Linked DNA regions of Homo sapiens. The protein of the gene in region 7 purifies or fractionates together with the protein of the main gene of each other region. This does not show direct contact. Each region holds a gene or a part of one and is shown on either strand. Other genes may lie near its edges.

The links.
Region 1: the proteins of NRG1 (region 7) and LARGE2 purify together in Homo sapiens (affinity purification with mass spectrometry; 3 studies listed by BioGRID and IntAct, with this or other methods). This does not show direct contact.
Region 2: the proteins of NRG1 (region 7) and DNAAF5 purify together in Homo sapiens (affinity purification with mass spectrometry; 3 studies listed by BioGRID and IntAct, with this or other methods). This does not show direct contact.
Region 3: the proteins of NRG1 (region 7) and SLC25A23 purify together in Homo sapiens (affinity purification with mass spectrometry; 3 studies listed by BioGRID and IntAct, with this or other methods). This does not show direct contact.
Region 4: the proteins of NRG1 (region 7) and TMTC4 purify together in Homo sapiens (affinity purification with mass spectrometry; 3 studies listed by BioGRID and IntAct, with this or other methods). This does not show direct contact.
Region 5: the proteins of NRG1 (region 7) and GALNT11 purify together in Homo sapiens (affinity purification with mass spectrometry; 3 studies listed by BioGRID and IntAct, with this or other methods). This does not show direct contact.
Region 6: the proteins of NRG1 (region 7) and TMEM63B purify together in Homo sapiens (affinity purification with mass spectrometry; 3 studies listed by BioGRID and IntAct, with this or other methods). This does not show direct contact.

Annotation. Positions count from the first base shown.
Region 1 is NC_000011.10:45,925,656-45,929,596, forward strand, and holds the end of LARGE2 (xylosyl- and glucuronyltransferase LARGE2), read left to right. Parts: intron 1-383; coding exon 384-496; intron 497-566; coding exon 567-692; intron 693-786; coding exon 787-942; intron 943-1,055; coding exon 1,056-1,216; intron 1,217-1,659; coding exon 1,660-1,938; intron 1,939-2,093; coding exon of another isoform or gene 2,094-2,264; coding exon 2,265-2,414; intron 2,415-2,521; coding exon 2,522-2,717; intron 2,718-2,876; coding exon of another isoform or gene 2,877-2,974; coding exon 2,975-3,190; coding exon of another isoform or gene 3,191-3,269; 3' UTR 3,270-3,441; downstream 3,442-3,941. UniProt on the Homo sapiens protein: Bifunctional glycosyltransferase with both alpha-1,3-xylosyltransferase and beta-1,3-glucuronyltransferase activities involved in the maturation of alpha-dystroglycan (DAG1) by glycosylation leading to DAG1 binding to laminin G-like domain-containing extracellular proteins with high affinity and in a phosphorylated-O-mannosyl trisaccharide dependent manner.
Region 2 is NC_000007.14:761,199-764,698, forward strand, and holds part of DNAAF5 (dynein axonemal assembly factor 5), read left to right. Parts: intron 1-554; coding exon 555-698; intron 699-2,607; coding exon 2,608-2,776; intron 2,777-3,500. UniProt on the Homo sapiens protein: Cytoplasmic protein involved in the delivery of the dynein machinery to the motile cilium.
Region 3 is NC_000019.10:6,446,293-6,449,792, forward strand, and holds part of SLC25A23 (mitochondrial adenyl nucleotide antiporter SLC25A23), read right to left. Parts: intron 1-3,500. UniProt on the Homo sapiens protein: Electroneutral antiporter that mediates the transport of adenine nucleotides through the inner mitochondrial membrane. Originally identified as an ATP-magnesium/inorganic phosphate antiporter, it also acts as a broad specificity adenyl nucleotide antiporter.
Region 4 is NC_000013.11:100,603,125-100,605,960, reverse strand, and holds the end of TMTC4 (protein O-mannosyl-transferase TMTC4), read left to right. Parts: intron 1-818; coding exon 819-967; 3' UTR 968-2,336; downstream 2,337-2,836. UniProt on the Homo sapiens protein: Transfers mannosyl residues to the hydroxyl group of serine or threonine residues.
Region 5 is NC_000007.14:152,032,174-152,035,673, forward strand, and holds part of GALNT11 (polypeptide N-acetylgalactosaminyltransferase 11), read left to right. Parts: intron 1-3,500. UniProt on the Homo sapiens protein: Polypeptide N-acetylgalactosaminyltransferase that catalyzes the initiation of protein O-linked glycosylation and is involved in left/right asymmetry by mediating O-glycosylation of NOTCH1.
Region 6 is NC_000006.12:44,137,554-44,141,053, forward strand, and holds part of TMEM63B (mechanosensitive cation channel TMEM63B), read left to right. Parts: intron 1-926; coding exon 927-964; intron 965-1,913; coding exon 1,914-2,056; intron 2,057-2,154; coding exon 2,155-2,206; intron 2,207-2,698; coding exon 2,699-2,807; intron 2,808-3,474; coding exon 3,475-3,500. UniProt on the Homo sapiens protein: Mechanosensitive cation channel with low conductance and high activation threshold. Osmosensitive cation channel preferentially activated by hypotonic stress.
Region 7 is NC_000008.11:32,768,311-32,771,428, forward strand, and holds part of NRG1 (pro-neuregulin-1, membrane-bound isoform isoform HRG-alpha proprotein), read left to right. Parts: 3' UTR 1-3,118. UniProt on the Homo sapiens protein: Direct ligand for ERBB3 and ERBB4 tyrosine kinase receptors. Concomitantly recruits ERBB1 and ERBB2 coreceptors, resulting in ligand-stimulated tyrosine phosphorylation and activation of the ERBB receptors.

The DNA.
Region 1 (3,941 bases), on a different chromosome or scaffold from region 7:
ATACATAAATAAGTAAATAAATAAAAAATAAGTAAATAAATAAAAAGGATAGGTGTGGTGGCATGCCTGCAGTCCCAGCTACTCGGTGGGGGTTGTGGTGGGGTGCTGAGGTGGGAGGTTTGCTTGAGCCTGGGAAGTCGAGGCTGCAGTGAGTCATGATTGTGCCACTGCACCACTCCAGCCTGGGTGACAAAGCAAGACCCTGTCTCTAAAAAACAAAACAAAACAAAACAAACAACAACAACAAAAAACAAGTAGTCCATGATCATGTCTGAACAGTCAGAAAATACCAATGTCAAAAAACAAAGGACACCTTCATGACCCCCATGTCCCCCAGGAGCTGGTCGTCCCAGGTGGGCATGACAGCATCTCTTCATTGGCAGGTGTGATCCTGCTGCGGCTGGACCGGCTCCGGCAGGCTGGCTGGGAGCAGATGTGGAGGCTGACAGCCAGGCGGGAGCTCCTTAGCCTGCCTGCCACCTCACTGGCTGACCAGGTCTGAGGAAGCCTTGCCGGGTGGGGTGTGGCAGGCTGGGGGCTGGGATGTGATGGGTGTCTCTGCTCAGGACATCTTCAACGCTGTGATCAAGGAGCACCCGGGGCTAGTGCAGCGTCTGCCTTGTGTCTGGAATGTGCAGCTGTCAGATCACACACTGGCCGAGCGCTGCTACTCTGAGGCGTCTGACCTCAAGGTGAGTGGGACAAGAGGCTGTGTGGTGGTGGGGGGCCATGGATGGAGACTTCTGCTCCCTGCTCCCATGGCCCCAACACCCTCCTGGGTCCCAGGTGATCCACTGGAACTCACCAAAGAAGCTTCGGGTGAAGAACAAGCATGTGGAATTCTTCCGCAATTTCTACCTGACCTTCCTGGAGTACGATGGGAACCTGCTGCGGAGAGAGCTCTTTGTGTGCCCCAGCCAGCCCCCACCTGGTGCTGAGCAGGTGAGAAGGAGTCACCTTCCCCTGCCCCTCTCTGCTTTGGTGGGACCCAGCCTTGTCTGGGGGATGTGTTGTTCTGCCCTATCCCCGGTCCTTGTCACCCCTTGCCCCCTCAGTTGCAGCAGGCCCTGGCACAACTGGACGAGGAAGACCCCTGCTTTGAGTTCCGGCAGCAGCAGCTCACTGTGCACCGTGTGCATGTCACTTTCCTGCCCCATGAACCGCCACCCCCCCGGCCTCACGATGTCACCCTTGTGGCCCAGCTGTCCATGGACCGGTGAGGGTGCAGAGGGCAGCCCAGGGGGTATGGCATGGGCTGGGGTTGGACACTTCTGAGAGGAGGTTCCATCTGGCAGCCTGATGCTGTGGTAGTGAGCTACCTGTCCCTCAGGGAGTTCCAGAAGTTGGAGACATTGGATATGGTGGAAAGAGCTTGGGCTCTGGAGTCATTCAGATGCCCGGAGCTGCCCCTCGGTCGCTGTGGGACCATGAGCAAGTCTTCATATCTCTGGCCCCTAGTTTTCTCTCTCAAATGAGAAAGTACCCACCTGGTGGGGGTAGTTGTGAAGATTCAATCAGACTGGCTCTAAAAGTATTTGAAGGGTGCTCAGTAAGTCACTTGAGGAGGTGGCAGCAGCAGCTAACTGGGGAGGTTTGCCAGGCCTCCCTGAGCTCCTGTGCAAGAGGGGCAGAGCTGTGCTGACCTCCCTCTCCCCATAGGCTGCAGATGTTGGAAGCCCTGTGCAGGCACTGGCCTGGCCCCATGAGCCTGGCCTTGTACCTGACAGACGCAGAAGCTCAGCAGTTCCTGCATTTCGTCGAGGCCTCACCAGTGCTTGCTGCCCGGCAGGACGTGGCCTACCATGTGGTGTACCGTGAGGGGCCCCTATACCCCGTCAACCAGCTTCGCAACGTGGCCTTGGCCCAGGCCCTCACGCCTTACGTCTTCCTCAGTGACATTGACTTCCTGCCTGCCTATTCTCTCTACGACTACCTCAGGTGGGCCTGCAGGCAGAGAGGGGAACAATATATGGGGTGGACGTGGACGGGGCATGCGTGGGACCCCAGGCTTCCATGTCCCTGCTCCTTTCTGGGCCTCAGTGGCCTCTGTCAATTGGGGTTTGTATTAGGCTGTTTCTCTGGGCTGTCAACAGGGAGGCCAGGGCCGGCTTCAACAGCAGCTCCACCTGTGGTTGTGCCCACCCGTCGCATCAGGCAAGATGGCCCATGGTGGTCTAGTCCTGTGGCTAATGCCCTGATGAGTGTCACTGGCCCAGTCCTAGATGCCCCGCTCTTCTCCCCTGCTCATGGGTGCTCCTCCTCAGGGCCTCCATTGAGCAGCTGGGGCTGGGCAGCCGGCGCAAGGCAGCACTGGTGGTGCCGGCATTCGAGACCCTGCGCTACCGCTTCAGCTTCCCCCATTCCAAGGTGGAGCTGTTGGCCTTGCTGGATGCGGGCACTCTCTACACCTTCAGGTAGGAGAGGCTACTTCTCTGCCCACTCCACTCACTTGCCCACACTGGCCCCCACTACCCACGAGCTCCTAGCCTCAGCCTGGCTCCCACCCGACCCTGCTGCACAGGTACCACGAGTGGCCCCGAGGCCACGCACCCACAGACTATGCCCGCTGGCGGGAGGCTCAGGCCCCGTACCGTGTGCAATGGGCGGCCAACTATGAACCCTACGTGGTGGTGCCACGAGACTGTCCCCGCTATGATCCTCGCTTTGTGGGCTTCGGCTGGAACAAAGTGGCCCACATTGTGGAGCTGGATGCCCAGGTGAGGAGGGCACCTTGCTGCCTCCACCTTTGACTCGAGCACCTCCAGGTCCAGGGAACTCACGACACCTGCATGGGGGACCACACCACTAGGCAACACTGTTAGAAATGTCCCCCTTCTGTGGAATTAAAATAATCTGCCCTTTGGCCCTTGCTTTAGCTCTCAGGGGCTACAGGGTAAGCCTGTTCTCTGGAGCTGCACCTTCCCCGCAGGCCAGGCAAGCCAGGCAGCCACTGCTCCTCTGCCCCACCCTGCAGGAATATGAGCTCCTGGTGCTGCCCGAGGCCTTCACCATCCATCTGCCCCACGCTCCAAGCCTGGACATCTCCCGCTTCCGCTCCAGCCCCACCTATCGTGACTGCCTCCAGGCCCTCAAGGACGAATTCCACCAGGACTTGTCCCGCCACCATGGGGCTGCTGCCCTCAAATACCTCCCAGCCCTGCAGCAGCCCCAGAGCCCTGCCCGAGGCTGAGGCTGGGCCGGCGCTGCCCCTCATCTTAGCATTGGGCAGACACCAGGGCAACCTGCCCTCCGCCATCCCTGCTATTTAAATTATTTAAGGTCTCTGGGAAGGGCTGGGGCAGAGCATCTGTGGGGTGGGGTCTTCCCCTTGCTGCTATTGTATGGCTGGGGACTGGTCTCTCTCTGCCCCAGCCAGTTTGGGGCTGGTTCCCCCATCTTGAATTGTTTATCCCTTTTTCATAATTAAAGTTTTAAAACATCTTTTTTGTGTTCCTGGTTTGGGGGAGCAAGGGCACTCTGGGGCTAGGGCGTCAGTGCACAAGGGAGGTGCTACATCCAGCTGGGGTCACAGGAGGGCCTGGGCCCTTAAGGGCAAGCACCCCCCCGCCCCCCACCCCCAGACAGCCAGTCAGGGAGGGCAGAGGCTGGGACTGGAATGTGTCCTGCCCACCCTCCCCTGCCCCAAACCCAACACCATGAGGCTGAGAGGCTTTATTTGGCTTTATTTAGTAAAATGTTAAAATAAATAAATACAAATTGATCAGCTGCTCTGTATCCCCCCCCACCCCCTCAAAACAAAAACCAAACAAACAAAAACAAAAACTTTGAAGCACAAAACTCCAAATACAAGTCTACCAAGACTGAAATCACAAAGGGCATGGACAAGAGACAGGGTTGGGGTCTGGCTGGCTCTTCTCTGCTAGGAGCTGGCTGACCTCTGGCCTGCCCGTCCCATCCCGCCTGACTGCAGCTCACCCTGG
Region 2 (3,500 bases), on a different chromosome or scaffold from region 7:
TCAACAAGCACGCCCTTTTATGGTTGACATGCCGGCACCCTACCTCCAGCGCCTGGGGGCTCTCCCTGCAAGGGCTCTCCCATGGCTGCTGCCCCTCGTGAGCCGTAGACTAGGAGCCCCGGGCGGGCTCTGTCGGCCCTGACACTGGGGCCGGAGCGGGAGCCCTGTATTAGTCCATTCTCATGTCGCTAATAAAGATCTACCACAGACTGGGTAATTTATAAAGAAAAAGAGGCTTAATGGACTCAAAGTTCCACATGGCTGTGCAGGCCTCACCATCATGGTGGAAGGCAAAGGAGGAGCAAAGTCACGTCTTACGTGGCGGCAGGCGAGAGAGTGTGCAGGGGAACTGCCCTTTATACTAACATCAGATCTCGTGAGACTTAATATCAAGAGAACAGCACGGGAAAGACCCACCCCCATGATTCAGTTCCCTCCCACAGGGTCCCTCCCAGGATACGTGGGGATTATGGGAGCTACAGTTCAAGATGGGATTCGGGTGGGGACACGACCAAATTGTACCAAGCTCTGACGGTGCTGCCGGTCTCTTCCAGGACCTCTACCTGGAGCGCCTGCTGCTGTGTGTGCAGGCTCTGGTGTCTGTGTGTCATGAGGACTGTGGCGTGGCCAGCCTGCAGCTCTTGGACGTGCTGCTGACAATAGTGGCCCTCGCAGGTGCTACCGGCCTGAGGGACAAGGTAAGGCTGACAGTGGTGGCTGCTGCTTGACCTAGCGGAGCTCACAGCTGGAAGGCATCTCTAAGTGAGGTGAACTGTCTCCTATGCATCCCCTCTGTGCTTGACCAGCAAAGACCAGGGATTGAGAACCTTGCGGGTGAGTCCCCGGGCAACGGCCTTCGGGGCAGCTCTCCAGCTGCCAGTGTATTCTGGCATCAGGGAGTGGAGACAGCTGTTTAATGTTAGGGTCTTCAGCAAAGAAGCAAACAAGAAATAAGACGTAACCTTTAAACCTGCGCACTTGAGTAGGGTTTAATAGTGCACATGTCGCTGGGCGTGGCATCTCACGCCTGTAATCCCAGCACTTTGGGAGGCCGAGGTGGGCGGATCACCTGAGGTCAGGAGTTTGAGACCAGCCTGACCAACATGGTGAAACCCCGTCTCTACTAAAAATACAAAAAATTAGCCAGGCGTGTTGGCATGTGCCTGTAGTCCCAGCTACTCAGGAGGCTGAGGCAGGAAAATTGCTTGAACCAGGGAAGCAGAGGTTGCAGTGAGCCAAGATCGTGCCACTGCACTCCAGCCTGGGCTGAGCAACAGAGCGAGACTCCGTCCAAAAAAAAAAAAAAGTGCATGTGCATGTGTGACTGAGTCGAGAGAAGATACCGTGATTTCCCGCTCTCATTGCAGCACAGCGTTCAGAAGTACTTCTCGCCCATGGGCTCCCTGTTTATGCCCAAAAATCATCTTTTTTCTTCAGTGGAGTCTCGCTCTGTCACCCAGGCTGGAGTGCAGTGGCGCGATCTCGGCTCACTGCAACTTCTGCCTCCCAGGTTCAAGTGATTCTCCTGCCTCAGCCTCCTGAGTAGCCGGGATTACAGGCGCCCACCACCATACCCGGCTAATTTTTATATTTTTAGTAGAGACAAGGTTTTGCCACGTTGGCCAGGTTGGTCTCAAGCTCCTGACTGCAGGTGATCCACCTGCCTCAGCCTCCCAAAGGGCTGGGATCATAGGCATGAGCCACCGCACCTGGCCATTATGCCCAAAAATCTTTTAACCCCAACCTTCTAATGGGCTTCTAGGGCCCCTGGAGGCCCCAGTATCTGTCTGCCTCTCTGGAAGCTGAGACTTAGTTCCTCCTCCCATTCTGTCTCTGTGGACAGCCCCTCTCGGCAGATTCTCTCTCTGGGAGATTTACGGCCTGAATGTACTATGGGGAACCTGGTGTGGAGGAGGCTGCTGCCCTCCCCTTCCTTCTTGGGGCCTCTAAAAACAAGCTTCCCAAGGGGCGTGTGTCTCAGCAGATGCTGTCACTGTTAGGGCCTGAGGTACCAGCAAAAGCAAAGTCTTTGCCTGCTGGTCATGGGGGACGAAGCCAGGTAGCCCCAGATTCAGACTCCAGGCTTGGGGCAATGGCCACCGGGGAGCCTCAGCCCTTCCTCTGTTCCTAAGCCCCCAAGGAGAGCAGCCAGCTAAAAGTAAAAGGTGGCCAAGGTTATCATCTCTGTCTGCCCAGTTACTTTTACCTGGAGGTCTGGTCTGCTGGGCTTAACTCTTTAAGCCACTTGCCCGCCCCTCTCTGCTCCTCACCACCTCAGAGGAGCCCTGCCTGCCCAGGCGGACACCACGTCCGTGTAAGCCCCAGGACCACCTGTGCTGTGTGCATCCCAGTGTGCACAGTGCCTGCTTCATGATTCGCTGCAGAGACGGCGTTGGTGTGAACGGGATCAGGGTCTCGCCCTGCACCCGCGGCTCTCGCTCTCCTGCACCCTGGGCGGGGCTCCCTGTGGCAGCCTCCCTCCCGATTATCCTGGCAGGCCCGGCCTGTGTGGTTCTTACGCGTGAGGGGGATAGTGAGTCCCAGCAGGCAGGCAGGCTTGAGCCCTGAGTGTTGGAATTGTCTCAGTCTCTGACTTGTAACCTCCAGGCACAGGAGACGATGGACTCACTGGCCATGGTGGAGGGTGTCAGCAGCTGCCAGGACCTCTACCGCAAGCACATTGGTCCCCTCCTGGAGCGGGTGACCGCGTCGCACCTTGACTGGACCGCACACTCGCCGGAGCTCCTGCAGTTCAGTGTCATCGTCGCACAGTCAGGTGAGCCGTCCCGACAGCTGGCGTGCCGTGCCTGGCCCCACTCAGGCTACACACCTGCTCCCCCAGGTGCTCAGCAGGTACCAGCGCCGACCAGCTGAGCTGTGGTTCACTGAAGCGTGTTGTTAAAAGTACCCAATAGTCACTCTTGCCTGGGGAGAAGCAGCATTTTAAGGAGCATCGCATTGAAGACTGTGGGACGCAGCTCTTCCACTTGGCCCGGGCACACGCTTTCATGTGAAACCTTCAAAGTGTGCTTTTCCGTGGCCTGTTTTGTAGCCTGGCTTCTTAAATACGTCTGGATTTTGTTGCAGAATCTAGATGTCTAGCCGCATGGGTGCTGTGTGTGTGACATGGGGGCCTTAGCCCCAGCCCCTCTGAGACCAGCATTTCTGTGGTTCTCTTTGAGCCTGCGGATCAGCCACTTTTCCTGGGATGGACAGTGTGGCCCAGTGGGGCTTCAGCGCGGGGCAAGATCCACTGCAGAACCCTAAGGAGACGTCCGCTCAGCAGCCATAGTGCCTTGGGACACACGGCCCGCGCTGCTCCACGGGCCGTGAACTCGCCGCGGTAGCTCTTCCTCGTTTGCCTCCCCGGCCCTCCCGCTCCCGCCTGCAGCTCCGAGTGCCCCCGCCTCCTGTTGGATGTGTGCACCAGGGTGGTCGTGCTCTGCATCTGAGGATGCTAAGATCGTTCTTACACAATCTCTGTGCCTGGTAGGGACTCA
Region 3 (3,500 bases), on a different chromosome or scaffold from region 7:
GCGGAGGTTGCAGCGAGGCAAGATCACACCACTGCACTCCAGCCTGGGCAATAAGAGCAAGACTGTCTCAAAAACAAACAAATGAACAAAAAAACACTCTCCAACGACACTGCCTGTGGTAGATGCTGTGAGTACACCACCTTCATCCCTTCCCACTCCAATTCAGACCTGCTGACTTCTTACTGCCAACATTTACCCAAAGACTTTGCTTGTGGACTTTCTCTGAACGCAGGCCAGCCGGCTCTGACCACTTAGGAATGGGCAGAAAGCCCTGGGAAATTAGCATCTCCAGATGCAACCTTCAAAAGACTGACCTGGTGGATCAATACCCCAGCTCCCTCATCTCTCTGGTGCAGCATGTCTTATGCTGCCTCCCACAGATCTCTAGAGGGCTGGAACTCCATTTGCTAGGAATAGTAACTTGCTTGATAACATACTGTTACGGGTTGAATCATGTCCCTCCTTTGGGGGGGAACATGTTGATGTCCTAACCCCCAGTATCTTAGAAGGTGACATTCTTTGGAAATAGGGTCTTTGCAGATCTAATTAGTTAAGATGAGTAGGGTAACAGGGTAGACCCTTAGTCCAGTATGACTGGTGTCCGTAGAGGAGAAAGACAGAGACACACACGGAGAAAGACAGCCAGGTGACAGCGGAGGCAGAGATTTGAGTGAATGTATCTACAAGCCAAAGAATGTCCAGGGTTGCTGGGAACAAGCAGAAACTGAAAGAAGGAAGGAAGGAAGGATTCTCCCCTAACAAGTTTGAGAGGGAGTATGGCTCTGCTGACACCTTGATTTTGCACTTCTGGCCTCTGGAACTGTGAGACAATAACTTTCTGTTGTTTTAAGCCAACCAGTTTGTGATACTTTGTTACAGCAGTCCTAGGAAACTAACATACTCATACTGTGTGCATTGACTCCCTGTCTCATTACCTCCCCAATAAATCACTTGTCCTCACGTCCCAGTTTCAGGGTCTGTTTTGGAAGGATCTCAAACTAAGACCAAAACTATTATTATTATTATTGAGACAGGGTCTCGCTCTCACACCCAGGCTGGAGTGCAGTGGTGAAATCTCGGCTCACTGCAACCTCCGCCTCCTGGGCTCAGGTGATCCTCCCTACTTCAACCTCTGGAGTAGCCAGGATTACAGCTGTGCACCACCACACCCGGCTAATTATCTTTATTTTTATTTTATTATTATTTTTTGAGACACAGTCTCACCCTGTCGCCTGGGTTGGAGTGCAATGGCACCATCTCGGCTCACTGCAACCCCACCTCCCAGGTTCAAGTGATTCTCCTGCATCAGCCTCCTGTGTAGCTGGGATTACAGGCTTATGCCACCGGGATTACAGGCATGTGCCACCAGGCTTGGCTAATTTTTTGCTTTTTTTTTGAGACGGAGTCTCGTTCTGTCGCCCAGGCTGGAGTGCAGCGGCACAATCTCAGCTCACTGCAACCTCCACCTCCCGGGTTCAAGAAATTCTCCTGTCTTAGCCTCCCAGGTAGCTGGGATTGCAGGCACACACAATCACACCCGGCTGATTTTTGTATTTTTAGTAAAGACAGGGTTTAACCATGTTGGCCAGGCTGGTCTCCAACTCCTGACCTCAAGTGATCTGCCTGCCTCTCCCTCCCAAAGTGCTGGGATTACAGGAGTGAGCCACCATGCCCGGCCCTATTATCTCTATTTTATAGAAAAGAAACTGAGGCTCGGGAAGTTACTTGCCCAAAGCTACAAAATAAAGGTGAGAACCAACATTCACAGCTGTATGTGAATCTAGAACTGTGCACCTGAAGACTTTAGGGTGGCTAATCCCTTCTGAAGCCTTCTGCCAAGGTGACTGTAAGAACAAGACCTTCTTTGCTTTGCGGCTGGGAGAGGCTTATAGGTTTCATTTCCTATGCCAATTCTAATCCACCAGAAATTGCTGCCTGAAACTGGAATTGTGTTGAGCAGGACTCAGTGCTGTGATGGATTAGTAATGCCTAGCCCAGGCACAGACTGGGTAAAATAGGCAAGTACTTAACATTATTGCCTTTGAAATTTTAGAAGCCTTCTTTTGGGTCTAGAACAGCACTTGCCAAATAGATGTTTAATGGGTTATTATTAAGATCAATCTGTTGAAAAGAAGTTCTAAAGACGGCCGGGTGTGGTGGCTCATGCCTGTAATCCCAGCATTTTTTTTTTTTTTTGAGATGAAATCTCGCTCTCTCACCCAGGGTGGAGGGCAGTGGCGCGATCTTGGCTCACAGCAAACTCCGCCTCCTGGGTTCAAGCGATTCTCCTGTCTCAGCCTCCCGAGTAGCTGGGATTACAGGTGCCCACCACCACGCCCAGCTATTTTTTGTATTTTTAGTAGAAATGGGGTTTCACCATGTTGGCCAGGATGGTCTTGATCTCTTGATCTTGTGATCCACCCCCCTCAGCCTCCCAAAGTGCTGGGATTACAGGTGTGAGCCACTGCACCTGGCAATTCCAGCATTTTGGGAGGCCGAGGTGGTCGGATCACTTGACGTCAGGAGTTCAAGACCAGCCTGGCCAACATAGTGAAACCCCGTCTCTACTAAAAATACAAAAATTAGCCTGGCGTGGTGGCGCACACCTGTAATCCCAGCTACTCGGCAGGCTGAGGCAGGAGAATTGCTTGAATCTGGGAGGCAGAGGTTGGAGTGAGCTGAGATCACACCACTGCACTCCAGCCTGGGTGACAGAGTGAGACTCTGTCTCAAAAAAAAAGAAAAAAAAAAGTTCTAAAGACTAGATTAATGTGGCCAGCACTGGGTTAAAAACAAAAAAAGTTAAATCACTTTACTGAGAGACTTCTCGGAGCCTTTAAGGGACAAACACAGATTTTGAAACTCCAAGGTTTCTAAAACCTCTTAGACTTTTAAAGTCCCTTTTTGGGTAAAGAATGCATTAAATAATAAGACTGTGTCTTCTTTCTGTCTTTCTTTCTTTCTTTTTTTTTTTTTTTGAGACAGGATCTTGCTCTGTTGCTGAAGCTGGAGTGCATTGGCATGATCACAGCTCACTGAAACCTCTGCGTACTGGGCTCAAGCAATTCTCCCATCTCAGCCTCCTGAGTAGCTGGCACTACAGGTGTGCACCACCACACCTGGCTATTTTTTTTTTTTTTGAGACAGAGTCTTGCTCTGTCACCCAGGCTGGAGTGCAGTGGCACGATCTCAGCTCACTGCAAGCTCCGCTTCCCAGGTTCATGCCATTCTCCTGCCTCAGCCTCCCAAGCAGCTGGGATTACAGGTGCCCGCCACCATGCCTGGCTAATTTTTTGTATTTTTAGTAGAGATGGGGTTTCACCATGTTGGCCAGGATGGTCTCGATCTCTTGACCTTGTGATCCACCCGCCTCGGCCTCCCAAAGTGCTGGGATTACAAGCGTGAGCCACCGTGCCTGGCCACCTGGCTAATTTTTAAATTGTTTTATAGAGACTGGTCTCGAACTCCTGGGCTCAAGCAATCCTCCCACCTCGGCCTCC
Region 4 (2,836 bases), on a different chromosome or scaffold from region 7:
CCCTTCCAGCCTGGTCTTCTGCTTTATATCCTCTTATGCCTTGGCTAAAATGCATTTATAATCATTTATTCCCTAGAATTCATTTCTTGCATTTGTATGTCTCCATAGTTAAGATGTTTAGAGCATAGCATTGTTGATGTTTAGAATGCTCACAGAAATGTTTTTTCACCAAAGCTGTTCTCTACCAACTCTGAAGCTTCTCTTCACAAAAGCCAAAAAGCGTCCACAGATGCTCTTCTGCCCATATAGAAAGTTAATTTTACTAACAAAATCACTGTCATGATCAGAGGCTAATCATCCTAATGATTAGGTTTACTGTAACTATCATTTTAGGGTCAGCTCTTGATATCAGAGGCCTTTTTTCTAAATGGACCCAAACAAGCTATTACTTCCCCAAATGGTGTAAGGAAATATTTAAAATAAACAGCTGAACTTCTGCATAGTCAGGGCTCTGGGCAGTGCCTAGCATCCATCACCCCCACCTCCCATACCCAGCCTTGCTTCCTGGAAATTTCATGGCAGCACTAAGACATTGCATGTACTCTTCTTTTTGCTTCTTTATGTAATAATGTTACTATAGGCAGATGTATCTTATCTAGTGCTATGAAGAGCCCTAGGAGTAACTGGCAGTAAATGGATAATCATCAGGGAGTGTGATTACAATAAATAGAGTTTTCAGTACAAACAATATTGTTTCATACAATTGACTTTTGAAAACTGTTTGCATAGGATCTGTAATATTTCTTTGTCCAAGAGGGTAGGAATACGGCACGTTACTCAGAAGCATTCCCAGTGAAATTTATCTCCTGCTATTTCAGCTGTGCTTTATCATCGTTGGGGACATCTAGACTTGGCCAAGAAACACTATGAAATCTCCTTGCAGCTTGACCCCACGGCATCAGGAACTAAGGAGAATTACGGTCTGCTGAGAAGAAAGCTAGAACTAATGCAAAAGAAAGCTGTCTGATCCTGTTTCCTTCATGTTTTGAGTTTGAGTGTGTGTGTGCATGAGGCATATCATTAATAGTATGTGGTTACATTTAACCATTTAAAAGTCTTAGACATGTTATTTTACTGATTTTTTTCTATGAAAACAAAGACATGCAAAAAGATTATAGCACCAGCAATATACTCTTGAATGCGTGATATGATTTTTCATTGAAATTGTATTTTTTCAGACAACTCAAATGTAATTCTAAAATTCCAAAAATGTCTTTTTTAATTAAACAGAAAAAGAGAAAAAATTATCTTGAGCAACTTTTAGTAGAATTGAGCTTACATTTGGGATCTGAGCCTTGTCGTGTATGGACTAGCACTATTAAACTTCAATTATGACCAAGAAAGGATACACTGGCCCCTACAATTTGTATAAATATTGAACATGTCTATATATTAGCATTTTTATTTAATGACAAAGCAAATTAAGTTTTTTTATCTCTTTTTTTTAAAACAACATACTGTGAACTTTGTAAGGAAATATTTATTTGTATTTTTATGTTTTGAATAGGGCAAATAATCGAATGAGGAATGGAAGTTTTAACATAGTATATCTATATGCTTTTCCCCATAGGAAGAAATTGACTCTTGCAGTTTTTGGATGCTCTGACTTGTGCAATTTCAATACACAGGAGATTATGTAATGTAATATTTTACATAAGCGGTTACTATCAATTGAAAGTTCAAGCCATGCTTTAGGCAAGAGCAGGCAGCCTCACATCTTTATTTTTGTTACATCCAAGGTGAAGAGGGCAACACATCTGTGTAAGCTGCTTTTTAGTGTGTTTATCTGAAGGCCGTTTTCCATTTTGCTTAATGTAACTACAGACATTATCCAGAAAATGCAAAATTTTCTATCAAATGGAGCCACATTCGGGGAATTCGTGGTATTTTTAAGAATTGAGTTGTTCCTGCTGTTTTTTATTTGATCCAAACAATGTTTTGTTTTGTTCTTCTCTGTATGCTGTTGACCTAATGATTTATGCAATCTCTGTAATTTCTTATGCAGTAAAATTACTACACAAACTAGCATGAAAATGTCATATTGCCTTCTTAATCAATTATTTTCAAGTAGTGAACTTTGTATCCTCCTTTACCTTAAAATGAAATCAAACTGACCAAATCATCATTTATGTGGCTTCTGTGTGACTTGGGGACCATTTCATAGAATGGCACTACAGTGTTTTCCAAGTTCAGAGAACAGAGCGAGTAGATCCACACTGAGAGGAATGTGATTCTCTGGACTCACGTGTTGGGGGCAGGTCTGTGTAGTGTTTCAGTCAGTGATTGTAACTTCTGGTGTTTGAAATGTATCAAGAAATAAAGTGCTGTGTTTAAAATATTTCTTTTTTTTTTTTTGAGATGGAGTCTTGCTCTGTCTCCCAGGCTGGAGTGCAGTGGCACCATCTCAGCTCACTGCAACCTCCGCCTCCCAGGTTCAAGCGATCCTCCTGCCTCAGCCTCCCGAGTAGCTGGGATTACAGGCGTGCACCAACATGCCCGGCTAATTTTTGTATTTTTAGTAGAGACGGGGTTTCACCACGTTGGTCAGGCTGGTCTCGAACTCCTGACCTCAAGTGATTCACCCACTTCGTCTTCCCAAAGTGCTGGGATTACAGGTATAAGCCACCATAACCAGCCTTCAAATATTTCTTAAATGGTCCCAAAACAACAGTAGTAATTTATAGCTCTCTTTAGTGGCTAAGACCATCTTCCTCTTATTTATGTTCCTATAGTGCTTCACTTGTCATACAATAGATGCATTATATGCTTTGTTGATTTTTTTTTTAAAGCAAACTTCTTTTTTTGAAACAGTACTTGTCTATTGAGAGTAATCACA
Region 5 (3,500 bases), on a different chromosome or scaffold from region 7:
AGAGTGCCTGGACTTGAGAAGTGGCCTAGATCTTGGGCCAGTGCCTGACCAAACAGATGAGGGCTATCCCTAAACCCTTGGGGCAAGACGGTCCATATAAGTTGGGATGTGTGGTCTGTGGGATCCTCAAAGGCAAAGAGAAACTGGGAGTCATGGGAGTCATAGTGCAGGGGAATACAGAAGAAGGCATCCTTGAGGTCCAGAACAGGGAACCATTCTGCTTCCTCTGGTATTTGAGAGAGCAGGGTATAGGGGTTGGGTACAACTGGATATAGAGGAATTACTGCCTCACTGATGAGTCTAAGATCTTGCACTAGACTCCACTGACCGTTCGGTTTTTGTACTCCTAGAATTGGGGTGTTGCAGGGACTGCTGCATTTCTTTACTAAGCCTTGAGCTTTTACATGTTTAACAATATCCTGTAATCCTTTATGAGCTTCAGGCCTTAAGGGATATTGCCTTTGATAAGGAAATGTGGTGGGATCTTTTAACCTGATTTGGACTGGGCAGGCATTTTTTGCCCTTCCAAATTGTCCTTCCAATGCCCAGACTTCAAGGTAGATTCCTTCCTCAAGTAGGTGACACCAAATGGGTAACTTGTTCCCCATATTCATGTAGATAATAGCTCCAGCTTTGGCTAACATATCCCTCCCTAATAAGGGTGTGGGACTTTCAGGCGTGACAAGAAAGGTGTGTGAAAAGAGCAAAGTCTCCCAATTACAACTGAGAAGGTGGGAGAAATACCTGGTTACAGGCTGTCCCAGGATTCCTCGGATGGTAATGGACCTTGAGGACAGTCGTCCGGGACAGGAGATTAACACTGAGAAGGCCACGCCAGTGTCCAGGAGGAAGTCAATTTCCTGGCCTTCAATGGTTAAATGTACCCGGGGCTCAGTGAGGGTGATGACATGAGCTGGCGCTTGCCCGAGGCACCCTCAAGTCCTGTTGTTGGATCATCTGGTTGGGGGCTTCTGACCCAGAGAACCTTTGTCCTCCGGGGCAGTGCGCCTTCCAGTGATTGCCTCGGCATAGCGGACATGGATGAGGGGGTGGCTTGTTTCTCGTTGGACAATCTTTTTTAAAATGTCTTTGTAAACCACACTGATAACAAGCCCTACCGGGTGATTGGCCTGCTCCATTTTCTGTCCTTTCTGAACCACCAAAGGTTTGTTTGTCTGAGGGCCATGACTAAGGCTGCAGCCTTTCTCTGATCTCGCTTTTCCTTTTGGGCCTGTTCCTCTTGGTCCCTATTATAGAACACCAAGGTTGCCAGGTTTAATAATGCCTCCAGATTTTGTTCAGGGCCCAGGGCTTGCTTTTGGAGCTTTCTCCTGATATCCACGGCTGATTGGGTAACAAACTTATATTTTACAATCAATTGACTCTCAAGTGAGTCTGGTGACAGGGGAGTACATTTTCTTAAGGCCTCCTGTAGCCACTTAAGGAAGGCAGAAGGATTTTCTTCCTTTCCTTGAGTTATGGTAGACATCATTGAATAATTCATGGGCTTTTTCCTAATTCTCCTTAGTCCTTCTAGAACACAGGTCAACAGATGTTTACGACTCCAGTCCCCATGATCTGAGTCAAGGTCCCAGTGGGGATCCATACTGGGGATGGCTTGCTTACCAGTAGGGAATTTGTCCCTTTCTTCAGCTGTCATTCTGCCATTTACTTGACTAAGGTACCAGGTATCTCCAAACTCTCAGGCTGCAGCTAAAGCCGCATTCTTTTCATTAAAGGCCTGGGTTTGATCTAACAGTAGCATGACATCTCTCCAAGTGACATCGAAGGTTTGCCCTAGACCATGTAGGACATCTGTGTACCTATCAGGATCATCTGAAAACTTACCCAGGTCTGCCTTGATCTGCTTTAAATCAGAGAGGGAGAAAGGGACATGTACCCTAGTTGGGTCAAATTCCCTCTCCCTACAACTTGAAGGGGACATAACCGATAGCCCAGGGGTTTTTGTGGTTCTTTGGAGATTTCTTTGCTTATTTCCTTCTGGGCAGGGGAGATTAGAGGAGGCTTATCATTAATAGGAAGGGTAGCTATAGGGAGGATAGGATATGGGGGTAAGCTGAGAGGTCCTCCTATGGGATGTAAATTGCAAACTTTGCATAGTTGTGTATTCTCCTTCAATGAAAAGAAAGCTTGGACATAAGGTGTTTCACTCCATTTGCCTTCCCTCTTACAGAAAAGGTCAAGCTTCAGGATAGTATTGTAATTTATACTTCCCTCAGGTGGCCATTTTTCCCCATCAGAGAGAGAATATGGGGGCCAGGCCATAGTGCGGTAAAAATGAGCCACCTCTTTTTCAGGGTTTGCGGGTCAAATTGGTCCCAGTGGCTTAGGATGCATTTCAAGGGTGAGCCTGTTGATGCCTGATTGTTTCCCATCTGAAAGACAAAACCGCCCGCAGTTTTGGTTTGTTTGTTTCTCCCCCTGCCCAAGAACCCACAATGGTCCCTGAACCCTGCTGATCGGAATAGTTGCACTCACCGATGCAGCAGCAGAAACACCTCTTGCCCAAGAACCCACAACGGTCGGTCCCTGGACCCTGCGGATGGGAATAGTTGCACTCACTGACGCAGCAGCAGAAACACTAGTTTTCCTCCTAGACCACAAGGAGGACCGAGGAAGGTCGGATTTAGTGGCCCTTACCAATGCATTCTCAAAAATCTGCACCCTTGCCTGTCCTCCTAGACCACAAAGAGGACCGAGAAAAATTGGATTTAGTGGCCCTTACTGATGCATTCTCGAAAACCTGTTAGGGTCCTAAGCATTCTCCAGTTAGTATTGGGACTTTACCCCTCCTGTAAAGATGTTATGCCCCAAAAATGAAGTGGAGGGCCATATCCTGAGGGAGGGGAGGGATCTCCAGAGTTGGAAGAGTGATGCCTTTTTGTCCGCACTTATATGAATACAAGAATGTCATTTCTGAAGCTCCCCGTATCCTAGCTTCTGGAATAGCTTTTGTTAGGCCTGCTAGTCTGAGGAGGGATCCTAAAATTCCGGATAAGACAGTCCCCCACCCTGATGGGGCTTTGGGCAAAAATTATGTCTTTCTAATTGGTGAGCCCGGGTGCCTAAAGAAGGTTAACAGAGTCCTGGAGTTTATACTAGAAATGATTCTTACAGGAGAAACTAGAAAAGCACCAGAGACAGGGAGTGGTTTCCAGAAGCGGGACTAGCCTCAGAGAAGAGAGGCAAGAGAAAGTTTTTCTGACAAGCATTAGGACCCAGGAGGCAAGGGTCAGGATAGGTAGGATAGATGGGCGAGTCTCGCTTGGGCAACATGACTTCGAGAGTTCTGCTCATGGCCACAGGGTCAACCAACTTGTTGTCAGGACCCCGGAGCTGAATGGCTTTCCTCTCTGTCGACCCTCGGCTCAGCCCGGAAGTACAGGAAAAGCGGAAAGCTGGTTCCAGGCAAACCAACACTCCCAACTCCGAAGAGTCAGGGGTTGTTAGAGAGCCCTATCCCGGAAAGCCTGACACCC
Region 6 (3,500 bases), on a different chromosome or scaffold from region 7:
GGCACCTTTCTACCCCATCCTGTGTTATGTCTGGACCTTCTGCTGGATGGAGTTTGGGGCAGGGTGCCCTCTGCGCAGCCCTCCCCTGAATATCCCCATTCTCTGCCTTTACATGCCTGGAGGGTGGAGGGGAGAGATTTTTTTTTTTTTTTAATTTTTCCCTGAGACAGAGTCTTGCTCTGTCGCCCAGGCTAGGGTGCAGTGGTGTGATCTCAGCTCACTGCAACCTCCGCCTCCTGGGTTCAAGCAATTTTCCAGTCTCAGCCTCCCAAGTAACTGGGATTACAGGCGCGCACCACCACACCCAGCTAATTTTTGTATTTTTAGTAAGAGACGGGGTGTCACCATGTTGGCCAGGCTGATCTCGAACTCCTGACCTCAGTTGATCCGCCCGCCTTGGCCTCCAAAAGTGCTGGGATTACAGGCGTGAGCCACCGCACCTGGCCGGAGGTGGGGAGATACCTTGCAGCTCATAGTGACCCTGGGCTTTTGTCCTTCTGGGGTAGACTAGAGGATAAATAGCTGGAATTCAGGCAGCAAGGCCCTCTTCTCTGCTTTTGGCAGCCATGTTGCAAACTTATTAGCCGGAGGTCTGGAGGTCCTGCTAACCTTAGAACCCCAAGCCCCACCCATCCCACCCTGGCCCACACAGCCACAGGGTATTTGCAGAAATCTGTAGATCTGGACATGGGGATTCACAGATAAACCTGTTTAGTGTTGGTCTTTTTTCTTTGAGGGCTGAGACCTTCCCTCTCTCTCTCCCTTTTTGGGTATAAGCTAGTTCTGAGGGTATAAGGATTTTTTTTTAGTGAGGGGTGTGGAAGCTATGCCTGGAGGTAATTATGAGAATGGGTGGGACTTGAGGGAGGAGAGAGGTTCGGGTTGGTGGGCTGGGGACTCCCGCTGACAGCCCTCTGTTCCCCCAGGGTTTCTGTTCCTGGCTGACAGCCATCTTCAGGATAAAGTAAGTGGACCATCTTCAAGCTCTAAAGAAAGAGAGAAACTTCAGAACCTGGCATCTCCCTACAAAATTCAGAAGCCAGCAGCTTTCAGGGCCTTAGCACTCCTCGCCAGCACAGCACCCTCCTCCCTGCTCTCAAAGGCCAAGCCTCGGGTGCCTGAGCCTCTGCTGTACCCTGAACACTCACTTGACCCCATAATCTCCTCTGTGACCCCCTGCCGGCCCCCCCGCTTCTCTCCCTGCCCTGCCCCACCTTGAGGGAGGGGGTGGAGCCCCTGCCTCAACCTCTGTGCAGCCAGTGAGTGGGGGCAGCAGTAGGCTGGGAGCAGCCAGCCAGCTGCAGGCAGAACTCAGGAGATCCAGCCAGAGTCCAGCAGGCAGGCAGTGAGCGCTGAGAAAGGCAGGAAGCCAGGACAGGTCAGCACTGCCGCCACCACTCCCCCAGGCCTCCCCCAAGGGTACCCGGGCTTCACTACGCCAGGCTCAGCCACACCCATGAGGTGCTGCTGCCCCTCCTCCCATCCTTCCTTCACTTCTGCCTCTTTCACCACTCCTCCTCCTGCTGGTCCTCCTCCTCTCTTGCCTTCCTCCCTCCTCAGATATTTCTCTTTTTTCTTCCCTTTTCTCTGCATTCCTCATTTTTCTTCTTCCCCTTCCTGTCTCTGCAGTCTCTTCTTTCTTTTACCTATCTTTTCCTTCTAGCCCTCTGCCTTCATCCCTCCCCTTCTCCATGCATTTCTCCTTTTTCTCCCTCCCCCTCTCTTCTCCCTTTCTCCCCTCTCCCTTCACAGAAAATAGGGGACCAAGAAGTCCCATTTCAGCCCTATACTACTGCCAGATCAGCTGGAGCTAGGGTGGGTTTGGGGTGGGAGTGGGTGAGGGCAGGCAAGTTGCAGCCCCCTTCTTGCCCTGGTCCTAACCTAATTCCTTTGTCCAACCCGTATGGCTGCAGGGATGATGAGATCCGGGACAAATGTGGGGGCGATGCCGTGCACTACCTGTCCTTTCAGCGGCACATCATCGGGCTGCTGGTGGTTGTGGGCGTCCTCTCCGTAGGCATCGTGCTGCCTGTCAACTTCTCAGGGGACCTGCTGGGTCAGTGAGGGCCAGGACGGCTAGGGTGGAGAGAGGATGGGGCTGGAGGGGATGTGCCCTGACCCCACCATCATCCTCTCCCTCTTCCCACCCCACAGAGAACAATGCCTACAGCTTTGGGAGAACCACCATTGCCAACTTGAAATCAGGGTAAGATGCGAAGCTGGTCGGCCAGGCCAAGGTCTACGACCAGAGTCTGGGCCATGATGTGGGACAGGGAGGAAAGGCAGCTGCGTTGATGGGAGCAGAGCCTACAGGGATGGCTATGGGTCCCTGAGGGCTTGGGTTGGAGACAGAAGAGGGAAATGCCTGCTGAGGATCCCCCAAGGATGAAGAGGATACAGAAGAGGAGGGTGAAATCTCAGGAACCAGGGAGGGCCAGCTGGGGCAGTTGGAGACACTGTAACCAGTGGGTAGGGCGTAGAAAGGTGACCTATCAGGGATATTTTCATTGGAATCGAAGAATTTTGGTGTCTAGGGGATGTGGGATGTGGGCCTGCCTTGCGAGGAGTCAGTGCCAGAAGGCTGGTGGCAGTAGAGGGCCCTGTCTGTATCAAGGGTTTAACACTGACAGGCTGAGGTGTCTCCTCTGAGTGTGTCCTAGCCCCAGTGGCTCCCATGTATCCTCTCTGCTTCTCCCAGGAACAACCTGCTATGGCTGCACACCTCCTTCGCCTTCCTGTATCTGCTGCTCACCGTCTACAGCATGCGTAGACACACCTCCAAGATGCGCTACAAGGAGGATGATCTGGTGCGTGGAGCAGAGCCCAGGTCCTGCCCCATCCCCAGCCTCTTCCCTTCCCTTCCCTGCAGGCCTCTTTTGTCTCAGCCCCAAGAGGTGTCAGCTAGGTTTGAATGCTGGCACAGCAGCTCAGGAGCTCCCATCCTGCAAGTTACATAACCTCCCAAGCCATGATTTTCTCATCTGTAAAATGGAATAACAACAGTACCTCCCCCAAGGTTGTGGGGAATACACAGAAACAGCCGTGCTGTGCCCAGCACTTGGGAAAATAGCAGTGGCTGATCCTAGGATAGTAATATTCCTTCCCCTTCTACATGCACTCACCAAGCCAGAACCGGACACCTACTCCATGCCAGCCACTGTGCTGGGTTCTCAGGGTCTAAGGAGCTGAAAGTAGTACCCCCTTCTGCCTCTATAACCCCTCAAGAGCATGGGACGGCGTGGCTCTTTTGTTAGGCTCACTGCCTGATTTCTGTTGGAAACACTCCCCTGCTTTCCCTGGGACCTGGCTTATCCATAACTAAGGCCTCCTCCCACCCCATCTGTTCCCCTCTGCTCACCTACTTCTCTACCCACTCAAAACAAAGCCTCTTTCTCTAGTGCCCCCCACCCCTCACATCCCCTGGCTCCACTGGGGTCAAGCCTCAGAAGGCAAACCCACTCCCCTGTCACCCAGGTGAAGCGGACCCTCTTCATCAATGG
Region 7 (3,118 bases):
AGACTAATGAAAATGTCAACGTGCCATTCAATCACGAAAGGTAACGAAAAATGCTCTCATGGTTCAAATAGTCCAATGGCCCATAGTGGCCTAAAAGGCAGCCAGTTGACACCTGGCCATGCTAAGCTTCCTTATACCATCCGCTAATGACTTTCCATTGGGCCCACAATTTACGGATTCATAATTTTAAAAGAGGAGAAGGCCAAGTTAGGTTCATTCCCCTTATTCTGTCAATAAAACAAATCAAACTCATGTCTATCTAACTGCTCAGGGAGGAGCCTTTGCATGAGAAAATTCTCATATTCTAAGACTGAGTCATAGAAATGAGGGTATTACTTTTCTTACTGCAATTAACCTAAACAAAAGCCATATTTTAACAAATAGATATTTGCATGGTACCCTTCATATATTCCAAGCATTTCACTCATTATTCCAGGTAGGTTAAGAGCTTCTGAAGTGTATGAAGTAAAGGTCAGCAATCCTTTGGGGTGAACAGTGGCCTCCTTTGGAGTTTGGGGGTAACCTGAGACTTCCCACCAATGTCCACCTCCATCTGTGTACCTAATTCCTATTACCTAGTTATGGCTCCTCTAGGATCATTTCCAAACACTCTGGATGTCCAGGAAATTTAAATTGTAGCTTTTGACTGAGCTAGTTTTTCCTATTTATATTAATAAATTTTCAAAAATGCTTGAAATCTTCACATTTGCAACAACTTTAGTTTTCATGCACATACAAACACAGAGAGACAAAAATTCCAAACAGACACTCTCCAAAAGCCACCACACTCTTTCACTTGCTCTATAGTCATTTAGCCAACCAGCCATGCAGAGAATATTTAAAACTTAAAGATTGAGACATTATTCTCAGTTTTTGCTGAGGCTTTGTAACGAAATTGAACACTATAAGCAGCTATTGTAGTAATTTTGGTTAAAATTGTTTGCCTGGGATATAGTATTTGAGGCAGAAGCACGTGTGTGAAGGAGGTGAGGTGGTTTGGAAAGAGTGAAGACTCGCAGCCAGATTGAATGTCTGGATAATTACTATAATTCTCCCTTCTTGGTTGAAACCATGTTCTCTCTTGATTTTTAAACCCAGGCTGCCTCTGGAAACAAGCAAACCTGAGTCTTTCTAACCTGAGTCTTCCCAATCATTAGATTTCTTTTCTGTCCTAACGATGAATGATAAAAGGACTTGATGTTCACAATTTGGGGTTATAAGGCAGGTCTGAAATCTGGAGACTCAAGATGCTGGAAGGAGTGGAAAGTTTCGATGACTTTATATGAATCACTTTGCACTCTATGTTTGGCTTGTCCTCTTTGAAACTGATTTACTAAAATAAATGTAAGGGAACTATTACTCCAAAAGATTAACTTGGCAGGAAATACCAATACTTTCAGTTTATGAAAGACAAAACTGTCTTGTTGCTACAGGAAGCTGCAATGTTCCTAACCTTTAAGGTTGGTGTTGAATAGGGTGGTCATGCCCTCCCCTGCAGGTATCTTTAGGCTCCTGTTGACCTCCTGGTACTATAACTGTTCGTCTTCTCTGGGTAGCTATTGATTTTGAACTTTAACATGCTTCAAAACTTTATTCATCAGGGAAATAGGAAAAGAGTTTTGTTACCTGGAGGAAATCTATTGTGATCTACCTGAGCTTTTTAAAAACAGACCAGGAGAAGGAAACCAGTAATTTTTAAAGAAGAGACAGAGAATGGGATAATAGTTTCACCCAGGATCTCTTTCTAACCCTTTCCCTTCAAATGAACTTATTGGAACAGAATTGGAAAGAAGAAAGGACATCTCTGCCCACCCCACAGGATGCCAAAAAGGCTAAAGAATTACCTCTGTAGATTTAAACATCTTTAATGGCTTATGTATAGATTTGCTAATACAGAGAGAAATGAACTATTAAATAAAAATCACATTTTATAATATTTTTATGGCTTAAAACATCCTTTATCTCCTTTTTGTTCTCTCTACATGATATGGTAAGTGATGAGGAAAATTTAGGCTCAGGAAGGTTAAAATCTTTCTTGGAGTTACACATCTAAGAGAGCTGCAGAGCTGACACTTGTACCCAGGTTTTCTGACTGCAAATCCAGTTTCTTTCTATTGCGTTCTTCCCCTTTCCCTGCCTCAAGCAGAAACAGGTTTTTTATTTTCAACCTTTATGTATACAGTATGTTATGTTACATCTACAGCTAAGTTTCTTTTTAGAAGAATGTGAGCCCTTCTAGCTTTGGTTTAGAGTGATTCTAGAAGCCAATTTCCTTGGCTTAGTGATTCTATGCACCTTTCCTAAACTTAGCTTTCTAAGGAAATGAAGTGTACGAGTGAGAATGAATTCACAATTTCGACATGTAGGTAGCATCCTAAAGTGAAAAGAGGAGGAAATTTGTGGTCAAAGCACTCTCCCCACCACTTAGAAACTTACTGACTGTGGGCAGCTTCCTCCTCCAAGTTTCCTTCCTGATTTACAAGACCGTGGTGTGGTCAGGATTAAACTTGAATACATGTAAGGAAGCCTGAAAGTGTCTAACACATAGCGAGTATTCAAATGCCACCTTCTATTTGATCCTTCCCCTCCAGTTCCTTAAGTTTTGGAATCTAGGTTTCTCAGTTCCAAATGGATTGACATTTGCATATCCCCATTGCACAATGGATCAAATAAACTTTATGTTATCATTTCTCCAACATAGTGCCAGTAAGCAAATCCTTTTTAATAACAACAGTATGTTGAGAAACATATCACCAAATAATATTTAACTTTGTAGCTTTGATAAGTTCTTTAGGTTTTGGTTTTGGTTTTGTTTTCTGAGACAGGGTCTTGATCTGTCACCCAGACTGGAGTGCAATGGTTCAATTTTAGCTCACTGCAACCTGTAACTCCTGAGCTCAAGTGATCCTCCCACCTCAGCCTCTCAAGTAGCTGGGACTACAGGTGTGCTCCACCATGCCCAGCGATTTTTTTTTTTTTTTTTTTTTTTTTTTTTGGTAGGGACAAGGTCTCGCTATGTTGCCCAGGCTGGTCTTCAATTCCTGGCCTTAAGTGATCCTCCTGCCTCGGCCTCCCAAAGTGCTGGAATTACAGGCATGAGCCACCACCCATAACTTTA